Regions from separate parts of the Homo sapiens genome. Here regions 2 and 3 are each reported to be linked to region 1. Evidence: microRNA targets listed by miRTarBase, many of them from high-throughput screens and not tested one by one. Region 1 holds a microRNA gene; each other region holds the end of a gene's coding sequence.

Region 1 (4,148 bases):
CCACCTCCCATCGCCTCCTGCTCTCCTGTCCCATGGGTCTCTGCCCAGTGCCCACTTGGTGCTCTGCCTGCCTGACTCTGGTGCCCTTATACGCTGTCCTCAGCCATGTGTGAGATGATAAAGATCATGCAAGAGTACGGGGAGGTGACCTGCTGCCTGGGCAGCTCTGCCAACCTGCGGAACAGCTGCCTCTTCCTCCAGAGCGACATCAGGTCAGGGCGGGACCCTGGAGCCTGCGGGCCAGCCTCTACCTCCCAGACCGGAGGATCAGATGGGCCTGCGTGGGGCTGGGGGTGTGTACTATAGCCGACCTCGCCCTGGCTGGGACCAATGCACCTGGGCATGGTGGGAGAAGAGGGTGGGGTGCCCAGTCCTGTGGGAGATACAGCTGAAGTGTGTGTGTCCCCCACCCTGAGCAGCATTGCCCTGGATCCCCTGTACCCATCCCGTTGCTCCTGGGAGACCTTTGGCTACGCCACCAGCATCAGCATGGCCCAGGCCTCGGATGGCCTTTCTCCCCTGCAGCTGTCAGGGCAGCTCAACAGCCTGCCCTGTTCCCTGACCTTTCGCCAGGAGGAGACCATCAGCATCATCCGGCTTATCGAACAGGTGGGTGCTTCGGCAGGCAAAGGAGGAGAGACGCAGGACAGGACCCGCCTGGGGTGGGAGTAGCAGCAAAGGACCTGTTTGAACCCGGGGACCTCATTCCCCAGCCCTCCGAGCGGGCTCTCCCAGGCAGTTACATTCGCCTCTGCTCCCCTCGTAGAAGCATCCTGGGCGTCTGGCTCTTGGCTAAAGTGTGTCAGCTGTTGGGCCTGGGAGAGGCCAGGTAGACCCAGGCCATAATCTGTCCCTCTTGGTCCCTAGGCTCGGCATGCCACCTATGGCATCCGTAAGTGCTTCCTCTTCCTGCTGCAGTGCCAGCTGACTCTTGTGGTCATCCAGGTGAGGTGGGGCCCGCACAGGCATTGCCCCCGTGCCACTCACCCCTTCACTCAGGGGCCAGCTGAAAATCTGAGGAAGGAGGCTGGGGTTAGCAGTACAGTCAAGGGGTCCCCCCAGAGCCTCTGTGAAGCCCCTGGGCTTTTTGAGCTGACCCTCATTGGCAGAAGAGTATTCCCTCCGGCCCCTGTTCCCTCTGGCAGGATGTGAGCATCTATCTGGGCCCAGGGCAAGGGAGCTCGGGGGCTCCTATGCCCTTATTATTTGCCTGAATTGAACTGTGGCTCTTGGCTTCTTTCCTGGTCTAGTTCCTTTCTTGCCTGGTCCAGCTGCCGCCACTCCTGAGTACCACCGACATCCTGTGGCTGTCCTGCTTTTGCTACCCTCTGCTCAGGTGAGATGCCATGTATCTTCCCCACACCCCATGCCTAAGCAGGAGGTGTCTGGATGTCACTGTGCAGCCCCAGGAGCCCAAGGTTCTGGAACTGCTCAGGTCTCACCTCCTCTGGTACAGGAGGCATGGAGGGAACCCCCTTTGTCTTTTTTTTTTTTTTTTTTTTTTTTTTTGAGATGGAGTCTCGCTCTGTCACCCAGGCTGGAGTGCAATGGTGCAATCTCTGCTCATTGCAACCTCCGCCTCCCGGGCTCAAGTGATTCTCCTGCCTCAGCCCCCTGAGTAGCTGGGATTACAGGCACCCACTATCATGCCTGGCTAATTTTTGTATTTTTAGTAGAGATGGGTTTTTGCCATGTTGGCGAGGCTGGTTTTGAACTCCTGACCTCAAATGATCTGCCCATCTCAGCCTCCCAAAGTGCTGGGATTACAGGTGTGAGCCACTGCCGTCCAGCCTTTGTTTTATTCCATCCCCTCACCAGACTCGACCTCACGCGCAAGACTCCCTAGAGGTTCCCTCTATGAGAATTGAGGGACAGAGGGTCATTGTCACCATCCCTCTACCTGATCTCTGCTTTTCAGCATCTCTCTGCTGGGGAAGCCCCCCCATAGCTCCATCATGTCTATGGCAACGGGGAAAAACCTCCAGTCCATTCCCAAGAAGGTAAGCAAAACAGACCCTGTGAGCCTTGCAAGTGAGCATGGAAGGGACTGAGGATTGGGGGAGGAGAGAGGGGCTAATCTGGAAGGCTCTGGATGGGGGATTCCAGCAGAACTCCGGCACTTGGTTCCTAGTCTTCCCCCAGATCAAAGAGGAGGTAGTGGCACAGAGCTGGGAAAGACCCTTGCTGGGGCTTGAGCTCCCTATCCCCCCAGGCCTGACCATTTACTAAGAGCCCGTTGAATACGTGGAAGAGCTAGGAGCAGCCGGCAGAGGGGCTGTGCGCCCCAGGAGTGACTGGCCTTGTTCCCGCAGACCCAGCACTACTTCCTGCTCTGCTTCCTGCTCAAGTTCAGCCTCACCATCAGCTCCTGCCTCATCTGCTTTGGCTTCACACTGCAGAGCTTCTGTGACAGCTCCCGGGACCGCAACCTCACCAACTGCTCCTCCGTCATGCTGCCCAGGTGGGTCCCAGCCCCAGAGATCCACCCATCGCCTGCCTCGCCTCGAGGCTTCCTCCCTCCCCACCCCAGCCTACCTCCCTGCGGCCCTAGAGGGGCTGAGCCCATGCCTCACTTTGGCAGCAACGACGACAGGGCTCCAGCCTGGTTTGAGGACTTTGCCAATGGACTGCTGTCGGCTCAGAAGCTCACGGCCGCCCTGATTGTCCTGCACACTGGTGAGAGGGCTCCCTGGGAGGGCGTGGATGATGGTGGGAGAGGAGCCCCACTGTGGAAGTCTGACCCCCACATCGCCCCACCTTCCCCAGTCTTCATTTCCATCACCCATGTGCATCGCACCAAGCCCCTGTGGAGAAAGAGCCCCTTGACCAACCTCTGGTGGGCCGTGACAGTGCCTGTGGTGTGAGTATTGCTAGGATGGAGGGCGGAGTGTGGGCTGGGGAGGAGAGGGCCTTCTGCAGGGCTAGGATCGGAGGGCGGGACCGGGGCCAGTGGTTTAACTGTACCCTGCCTGAGCTAACTGTTGTACTGGGAAGAGCAGGGAAGGAAGCAAGCAGTGTCGGGTTCACACGGGGCCGCCACCTCCTGCAGGCTGCTGGGTCAGGTGGTCCAGACGGCTGTGGACCTGCAGCTGTGGACACACAGGGACAGCCACGTCCACTTTGGCCTGGAGGACGTGCCCCTGCTGACATGGCTCCTGGGCTGCCTGTCCCTGGTCCTTGTGGTGGTGACCAATGAGATCGTGAAGCTACATGAGATTCGGTGAGCTGTCAGCAGGGCGCCTCCCTCTGGGCTCAGGCATGTTCCCTAAACCTGTTACTCCCTTGGCGACACTCCCCCACCTTTCCGCTGCCCATCCCTCCCTCCTCCTCTGGTGTCCTGCCCCGGCCCCTGGTCTAAGGATCTTTGCCAACCTGTACTTTAATCTCCTGCCCCACCAGGGTCCGAGTCCGCTACCAGAAGCGACAGAAGCTGCAGTTTGAAACTAAGCTGGGCATGAACTCTCCCTTCTGAGCCACTGGCTGTGGTGGCTGTAGTTGCCCCCGTCCCTGGGGCTAAAGCCAGACCCATTTCTGAACAGGGGAGTTTGTATCATGAATGTTTCCAGGTTTGCTCCTGCACCCGTGGCACTGGAAACCCAGCTCCCCGTGTCAGACCCCGCTGTCTTCCTGAGCCCTGGGGCTCACTGTGGAGGAGCTGACGGCCTGGGCCCTTGGCCAGTCCTGGCTCTTCCCTGGGCCTCACCAGGGACACTCTTGAATGTATGGCCTCAGGCGCTCCCTAGAGGGGCCCTAAACCCCCTCACCTGTGAGCTACCCCCTTTAGGGATCCCTTGCCCCCTTGGAGATCCCTTGCCCCCCAGTGCCTCTGCTCGTGGGTCCCTGGACACGGCCTTGAAGCCAACCTTCTTTGGAGGAGCAACAGCAGCAGCCTTGGCCGACGCGTCCAACTCCCAAGGCTGCCGTGGAGGGCAGGGGGGTGGTGCTTGCCTGGATGTGGCCCCGAGTGCCTCCCCTCCCTCCCTCTGTGGGGGAGTCTCCCGCCTGAACCTGAAGATGGAGCAGGGCCCCCGCTTCGCCCTGGAGCCTCTTCCTGTGCCTGGCTCAAGCTGGCTGCCTGTCAGTCTTGGGGAATCTGGCCCAGGTCTCCTCAGCCTCTGCCCCAGTTCTGGGAGAAGTTTCTACTGGTG
Region 2 (4,000 bases), not on the chromosome of region 1:
CTCCAAATCAATAAGATAGAATGGTTAGAAGTCAAGTTAGAGTTATTGTGTGGCTACCTTATATCCAGACCTCTAATAGACTGAGTGGAATTGTCACTTCTCTTCCCTCAGTTATCCCAATTGTTAGTAAACTTCAAGGAGGCTGGGCATGATGACTCACACCTGCTATCTCAGAACTTTGGGAGGCGAAGATGGGCAGATTCCTTGAGCCCCGGTGTTCAAGACGAGCCTGGGCAATATGGCAAAACCTCATCTCTAACAAAACACAAAAATTAGCTGGGCCTGGTGGCACGTGCCTGTAGTCCCAGCTACTTAGACTGAAGTGGGAGGATTGCTTGAGCCTGGGAGGCAGAGGTTGCTCTGAGCCAAGATTGTGCCACTGCACTCCAGCATGGGTAACAGAGTGAGACCCTATCTCCAAAAACAAAACAAAACAAAACAAAACAAAACAAATCAAAACCAAACAAAAAACTTCAAGGAAGGCTCGGCACGGTGGCTCATGCCTGTAATCCCACCACTTTGGGAGGCTGAGGTGGGTGGATCACCTGAGGTCGGGAGTTTGAGACCAGCCTGACCAACATGGAGAAACCTCATCTCTACTAGAAATATAAAATTAGCCAGGCGTGGTGGCTCATGCCTGTAATCCTAGCTACTTGGGAGGCTGAGGTAGGAGAATCGCCTCAACCCGGGAGGCGGAGGTTGCAGTGAGCTGAGATTGCACCATTGCACTCCGGCCTGGGCAACAAGAGCAAAATTCTGTCTCAAAAACAAAATAAAACAAAAAAAACTTCAAGGAGATGTGGATTCAGGGCTTGCTTTCCTTCCTTCCTTCTTTTTTTTTTTTTTTTTTGATGGAGTCTCGCTCTGTTGCCCAGGCTGGAGTGCAGTGGTGCAATCTTGGCTCACTGCAATCTCCGCCTCCTGGGTTCAAGCGACTCTCCTGCCTCAGCGTCCTGAGTAGTTGGGATTACAGATGCGTGCCACCACGCCAGGCTAATTTTTGTATTTTTAGTAGAGACAGGGTTTCATCATGTTGGTCAGGCTGGTCTCAAACTCCTGACCGCCTTGGCTTCCCAAAGTGCTGAGATTATAGGCGTGAACCACCATGCCTGGCCTAGGTTTTGTTTTGAACTGATATTCTGTTTCTTCAGCAAGTCCACATAAGAATGTGGATATGAAAGGATGAAAATCTACTGAAAGATTACATAAAGAACAGATAACAGGGACCCACAGAATAAATCAGAAGAAATCTATGAAATAGCCACAACTTCTTGAACATTAAAGTGAAGGGAAAAAAAGCCACATTCATCAGATTAAACAGAAGCTATTAATTTTTTTCTTCCATTTATAGTGTGGATAGGAATTAAAGCAAAACAGTGAGACTGTATGGTTTTCAATACAAGTTCAAAGAAAGCAACAAAATCTTCTGTTTTAGGAAATCATATTAATATCTATTACAAATGCAGAAAGCAGGGGGGCTGAGTCAATGCCCCAGCACCAACCATACTGGTTATAGTGTGGAAGAGGGGCGGGTGAGGTGGAAGCTGCCAGAGAGAGCAGGAGGATCAGCACTGGAGTGAAGAGGAAGCACGCAGCAGGAGAGGGCAAAGAGCACTGAGAAGAAGAGGGGAGCAGTGGGCCATGATTGTGCCCTTCTTGCTTCTCCAGAGACCCTTTCCTATGCAGCACCCCACACCCAGCCAGACCTTATTGTGATTCTGGCTAGAAGTGTGGGGACTGACAGCTCATAAATGCTCCCACAGAGTTGATACAACTCTGCTTTAAGGAGGAGAATACATTTATTGGTCGAAGTGATTTAGAGAATATCATTTGGTAAATAAAACTACAATAGCCTATAAAATGTAACCTGCTAGTTTTCTGCCACGTTAGCATTAATATTAAGGCTTTTTTTTTTTTTTTGAGACGGAGTCTCGCTCTGTCACCCAGGCTGGAGTGCAGTGGCGCGATCTCGGCTCACTGCAATCTCCACCTCCCAGGTTCAAGCAATTCTCCCGCCTCAGCCTCCCCAGTGGCTGGGACTACAAGGCACAAGCCACCATGCCCGGCTAATTTTTTTTACTTTTTAGTAGAGACAGGGTTTTGCCATGTTGGCCAGGCTGGTCTTGAACTCCTGAACTCAGGTGATCCACCCGCCTCAGCCTCCCAAAGTGTTGGGATTACAGGCGTGAGCCACTGAATCTGGCTAAGGCTTTTTTTTTTTTTTTTTTTGCAAGGAAGGAATAAGGGGATTTATTGAAAATGAAAGTACACTCCACAGTGTGGGAGTGGGCCTGAGCACAGGGGCTCAAAACGCCTTTCTTGTTTTTGTATATAGAAAATATACATGCTTTCTCATCTAACCGATTTTTTTTTTTTTTTTTTTTTTAAGACAGAGTCCCACTTTGTTGCCCAGGCTGGAGTGCAGTAGGCATGATCTTGGCTCACTGCAACCTCCACCTCCTGGGTTCAAGCGATTCTCATGCCTCAACCAGGCGCCACCACACCTGGCTAATTTTTGTATTTTTAGTAGAGATGGGGTTTCACCATGTTGGCCAGGCTGGTCTTGAACTCCTGACCTCAGGTGATCCACCCACCTCGGCCTCCCAAAGTGCTGGGATTACAGGCGTGAGCCACCGCGCCTGGCCTCATCTAACCAATTTGGATTCTGGTTGGAGTTCAGGAAAAACTAAGTTCCCATTACTTCCAGATTATTTTAAAATAAAAAATCATGATGACTTGTGAGGAAAAGGAAGAACATGTCAGATCCTGAGCTTCCTCTCAGGCTTGAGTGCCTCAAGAGGACTGTATTGCTGTGTTACGAGAGGTACAGTGCAATGCTTTCATCTGATATGCCAGTGTGGTAAGAAGGCTTTCCCTGGAGGTAGAGACTCTTTTATCAGAAGGTTGGGGGTCTCCAGAAGGTTTTCCCCACCAGGAATTGGATTTGATGGCTGGAATTTAGAGCCTACACATTTGGGTCTCACAATCAGGGCAGGGCAGGTAAGGCTAATGGTGCAAACTGTGTCTCTGCACAGGCAGTCATCTAGGGGAAGGGGTGTGGTGCAGCCAGTAAAACCTGGAACCTGCAAGTGGTTCAGAACTTTGGTGGCCAGTAAGGGAAAAACTCCTCAAGCATGCTACAATATTGAAAGGTTCAAAAGCACTGACAAAGTGTTGTTTTGCCCCCGGTGCAGCACATAAGACTCTGTTCCAGTGAAATGCTACATTCAAAGTGCTGTCCACCTCAGAAGATCCCAGAGGATGCAATTCTGGCTGTGCTGGGAAGTGCTAAAGTTCCCTCCATATGTCACTTTGGAGAAGGAAGCAGCAAAGCAGCCATGTTGATTCCTCTCTCAACCTTTGGCATCATGGACGATGGTAGCTAAAAGAGATTAAAAAAGAGACAAGTTACCACATGATGTACATTGCTTTGCTATTAATGTATCAGTAGTAATGAAATGTTATACCTAATTAACACTGCCTTTCCTCTGCTCTAATTCGACCTGACCTTTCTGTTGCATCTGATACTCCTCATCTGCTTCCTTCTTAAAACTCTTCTCGGCTGGGCGCAATGGTTCACACCTGTAATCCCAGCACTTTGGGAGGCCGAGGCGGGCGGATCAAGAGGTCAGGAGATTGAGACCATCCTGGCTAACACGGTGAAACCCTGTCTCTACTAAAAATACAAAAAATTAGCTGGGCGTGGTGGCGCGCACCTGTAGTCCCAGCTACTCGCGAGGCTGAGGCAGGAGAATGGCGTGAACCTGGGAGGTGGAGTTTGCAGTGAGCCGAGATCGCGCCACTGCACTCCAGCCTGGGTGACACAGCGAGACTCCGTCTCAAAAAAAAAAAAAAAAAAAAAAAAGAACTCTTCTCTTGGCTTCTGTAACACTATCTTTTCCATAATTTTCTCTCTTCTTCAATTGATCTTTCTCAGTATGCTGTCCTGGTTCATTTTCCTCTGTCTACCCTTTAAATAAAAAACAACTTTCCTTGGCCA
Region 3 (4,000 bases), not on the chromosome of region 1:
ATTTTGTTTTTGTATTTTTGGTAGAGACAGGTTTTCACCGTGTTAGCCAGGATGGTCTCAATCTCCTGACCTCGTGATCCTCCCGCCTCGGCCTCCCGAAGTGCTGGGATGACAGGCGTGAGCCACCGTGCCCGGCCTATTTTTTATATTGTAGTAGAGACAGGGTTTCACCATGTTGTTTGGACTGGTCTCGAACTCCAGAGCTCAGACAGTCTGTCTGCCTCGGCCTCCCGAAGTGCTGGGATGACAGGCGTGAGTCCCCGTGCCCGGCCGCCATGCTCATTTTCTGTCTTCTGCCTCCCTGTCCTCTGTCCTTGCAGGTGCACAGGATCTACCGAGGGGCTGGCGGAAGCTTCCAGAAGGCACAGACGGAGTGGAACACGGGCACTTGGCGGAACCCACCGTCGAGGGAGGCCCAGTACAACAACTTCTCAGGCAACAGCCTGCCCGAGTACCCCACTGTGCCCAGCTACCCGGGCAGTGGCCAGTGGCCTTAGAGGGAGCCTGCCCTGCCCCCACCGCCCACCACCTCCTCCCCTTCATTCCTGCTGCTACCCCTGGTCCCGAGGGCTGGGAGTACCTGGGGCCCCATCCCCCCAGCTGGGATGGTGGAAGCCGGTGGTGGCCACGGACCGCCCCCCTCCTGCCAGGGCCACAGAACCCGTGTTCATCTCATCCGAGAGCGGAGTTCCTCACAAGCACTCCCCAGCAGCCCTTGGCCTCTGCCGTCCACAGGACGCCCTCTTGCTCCCGGAAACGTGTGGTCACCCGCCGTCCACTGCACGGCTGGTACGGCCTTGTCTTCAGGTCTCGAGGCCTGACTCCGGGGGACAGGTGGCAGCAGGTCGGCCGCCCTCCCGTCCTCCCAGAGCTGCTGGCGCTGAGGTCAGAGCGGGTCTGATGGGGAGCTCCGTCTCACCGGCCACCCGCCGTCACCATGGCAGATGCCCTTGGCCGGAACTAATAAGAGGCGTCGGGGCCAGCTTCCGGTCCCCTGCAGTGATAGAGGGCTTGGTGCCTAGCTGAGTCCTCGCTGTCCCCGCCATCCCCTGATCTGTGCGGCTCCAGCCTCGCCCCCTCCCCACGTGCACCATACCTGGGGAGTTCCTGGTCCAGGGTATCCTGGGGCCACCCTCCCTGCCTCCAAAACAGGGATCCCTGGCAGGCTGTCTTTCCACGCCCCTGAGTTCAGAGTCGGGGACCCAGGCCAGGTCGGGAGCACAGCCGCTCCCCAAACCCAGCAAACCGGCAGAGAGCCGGTTTCCCAGCAGCCGGAGCCCTGCAGGAGAGGCCTTTGTGTTTTGTTTTGTTTTGTTTTTTCTCTTTTGAGACAAGAGTTTCACTCTGTCGCCCAGGCTGGAGTGCAGTGGTGTGATCTCGGCTCACTGCAACCTCTGCCTCCCGTGTTCAAGCAGTTCTCCTGCCTCAGCCTCCCAAATAGCTGGGATTACAGTTGCCTGCCACCACGCCCAGCTAATTTTTATATTTTTAGTACAGATGGGGTTTCACCATGTTGGCCAGGCTGGTCTCGAACTCCTGACCTCAAGTGATCCACCCGCCTTGGCCTCCCAAAGTGCTGGGATAATAGGTGTCAGCCACCGCGCCCAGCCTGGAGTGGCCTTTTATGAGAGGGGACCCGTCAAATCTGTGCCTTATGGAGGGGTCCGGCAGCGGCCACAATTGTCTTGTCCCCTCACCCCCCAACTCCCCCTGGAACACCTCTCCCAGGCAAGACATTTTCACAGCACCATTCACAACGGTTGGGCCAAAAAGAAACTTTTCCTTCATCATTTCCTGCACTCGCTGACCACAACTTTGGACACCCCAGGCTGCCACCCCTCCCCACCCGTTCACCCCCAGGATGCTGTTGCTGTAGGACGCCTGCTGCCCTGGAGCCCTCCCCAGGATGTGAGCCAGTCCCCTCGCTGGTACGGAATGCCGCTGGGTGCCCGGAGGCGGCCATGGTGTCTCGATGGACGGCAGCCAGGATGGAGCACCCATGGGTCTCACGGCCATGCTTCAGGGTCTTCAGGTCCTGCCCCCGGCCAGTCTGCCAAGAGGCACCCCCTTCCCCAGCCTCTCGCCTGCACTGATGCAGACAAAATCTCACCTGGCAGGCCCAACCCCCCCCCACCCCTCCCCCGCCGTGTGTGGCCCCTCGCCGCATCGTTGGGGTTTTGTTATGTGAAAATATCCTGGAAATAAATACATGTTTCTGCACTTAGAGCCAGGGACCTGCCGCGTTTGTGCTGTGAGCATGTGTGGTTCCCCCAGGCCGTCTTCTCCCTTGGGAGACCCCTCAGCATATGGCCTCTGGCAGGATGCCCCCCTGCAGCGCCTCCTCCCACCCAGGCCCCGGGTGCCCTGTAGCCAGGTGTGCCCAGGGCTGACCCTGCCATCCTGGCCAACGTGGTGAAACCCGGCCTCTACTAAAAATACAAAAATTAGCCGGGCGCGGTGGCGGGTGCCTGTAGTTCTAGCTACTCAGGAGGCTGAGGCAGGAGAATTGCTTGAACCCGGGAGGCGGAGGTTGCCGTGAACCCAGATCGCGCCACTGCACTCCCCACCGGCTCAAAAAAAAAGGAAACTTGCACAGATGGAAAGCCAGTGTCACTGGCCCTACGTAAAAAGCAAACATCGGCCAGACGCAGTGGCTCACGCCTGTAATCCCAGCACGTTGGGAGGCCGAGGTGGGCGGATCATCTGAGGTCAGGGGTTCAAGACCAGTCTGGCCAACATAGTGAAACTCTGTCTCTACTGAAAACACAAAAAATTAGCTGGGCGTGGTGGCACACGCCTGTAATCCCAGCTACTCGGGAGGCTGAGGCAGGAGAATCGCTTGAACCTGGGAGGCAGAGGTTGCACTAAGCCAAGATTGCACCATTGCACTCCAGCCTGGGTGACAGAGTGAGACTCTGGAGAGAAAAAAAGGGGGGTTGTGGGGTGTGGTGGCTCACACCTGTAATACCAGCACTTTGGGAGGCCGAGGCAGGCAGATCACCCAAGGTCAGGAGTTCAAAACCAGCCTGGCCCACATGGTGAAACCCTGTCTCTACTAGAAATACAAAAATTAGCCAGGTGTGGTGGCAGGTGCCTGTAATCCCAGCTACTTGGGAGGCTGAGGCAGAAGAATCAGTTGAACCTGGGAGGCAGAGGTTGCTGTGAGCCAAGATAACGCCACTGCACTGCCACCTGGGTGACAGAGCAAGATTCTGTCTCAAAAAACAAACCCAGCCGGGCGCGGTGGCTCACGCCTGTAATCCCAGCACTTTGGGAGGCCGAGGCGGGCGGATCACGAGGTCAGGAGATCGAGACCATGCTGGCTAACACGGTGAAACCCCATCTCCACTAAAAATACAAAAAATTCTCCGGGCATGCTGGCGGGCGCCTGTATTCCCAGCTACTCGGGAGGCTGAGGCAGGAGAATGGCATCAACCTGGGCGGGGAGCTTGCAGTGAGCGGAGATCGCTCCATTGCACTCCAGTGTGGGCGACAGAGCGAGACTCTGTCTCAAAAAAAAAAAAAAAAACCAAAAAACAACAAAAGAATAAACTTACTACATGTTAATATTTTTTTTCAAATACTTTGTTTTTTGAGACCGAGTCTCACTCCGTCGCCCACACTGGAGTGCAATGGCGCGATCTCCGCTCACTGCAAGCTCCGCCTCCCGGGTTCACGCCATTCCCCTGCCTCAGCCTCCCGAGTAGCTGGGACTACAGGCGCCCGCCACCACGCCCGGCTAATTTTTTGTATTTTTAATAGAGACGGGGTTTCACTGTGTTAGCCAGGATGGTCTCGATCTCCTGACCTCGTGACCCACCCGCCTCGGCCTCCCAAAGTGCTGGGATTACAGGTGTGAGCCACGGTGCCCGGCCTCAAATACATTTTTTAAACAGGAGGATGGGTGGCATACTTTTTTAAATGTGTGCAAAACTCTTGAACATCTGGCTTCATAGAGGACAAGAGGGATGGCTCAGCAGCTCTGTCGCAAAAGGGTGTT

The links. Region 1 holds the annotated microRNA hsa-miR-6785-5p (UGGGAGGGCGUGGAUGAUGGUG, at 2,691-2,712, shown strand). A microRNA usually pairs through its seed, bases 2 to 8, with sites in the 3' UTR of a target mRNA and lowers its output. Matches are read on the target gene's strand: a 7mer-m8 pairs with bases 2 to 8, a 7mer-A1 pairs with bases 2 to 7 and ends in A, and an 8mer does both.
Region 2: miRTarBase lists PHACTR4 as a target of hsa-miR-6785-5p. Seed matches in the 3' UTR shown: 7mer-A1 at 655-661, 7mer-A1 at 521-527, 7mer-A1 at 343-349, 7mer-A1 at 324-330 and 7mer-A1 at 180-186.
Region 3: the mRNA of SCAMP4 is a reported target of hsa-miR-6785-5p. Seed matches in the 3' UTR shown: 7mer-m8 at 853-859, 7mer-A1 at 862-868, 7mer-m8 at 1,076-1,082, 7mer-m8 at 1,132-1,138, 7mer-A1 at 1,430-1,436, 7mer-A1 at 1,565-1,571 and 3 more.

What each region holds. Positions count from the first base shown.
Region 1 is chr17:75,495,863-75,500,010 of GRCh38, forward strand. It overlaps MIR6785 (microRNA 6785), which reads left to right and starts at 2,686; the gene lies at 2,686-2,766. TMEM94 (transmembrane protein 94) reads left to right here. Exons shown (of 32, transcript NM_014738.6): 23 at 104-212; 24 at 420-609; 25 at 868-945; 26 at 1,251-1,336; 27 at 1,919-2,000; 28 at 2,313-2,461; 29 at 2,582-2,676; 30 at 2,767-2,860; 31 at 3,050-3,220; 32 at 3,400-4,148. The coding sequence ends at 3,472.
Region 2 is chr1:28,495,916-28,499,915 of GRCh38, reverse strand. It overlaps PHACTR4 (phosphatase and actin regulator 4), which reads right to left. Exons shown (of 14, transcript NM_001048183.3): 14 at 1-3,382. The coding sequence ends at 3,367. Among named protein-coding and RNA genes, the nearest start is that of SNHG3, 8.0 kb to the left of the region's middle.
Region 3 is chr19:1,923,788-1,927,787 of GRCh38, forward strand. SCAMP4 (secretory carrier membrane protein 4) reads left to right here. Exons shown (of 7, transcript NM_079834.4): 7 at 321-2,226. The coding sequence ends at 497. Among named protein-coding and RNA genes, the nearest start is that of CSNK1G2, 15 kb to the right of the region's middle.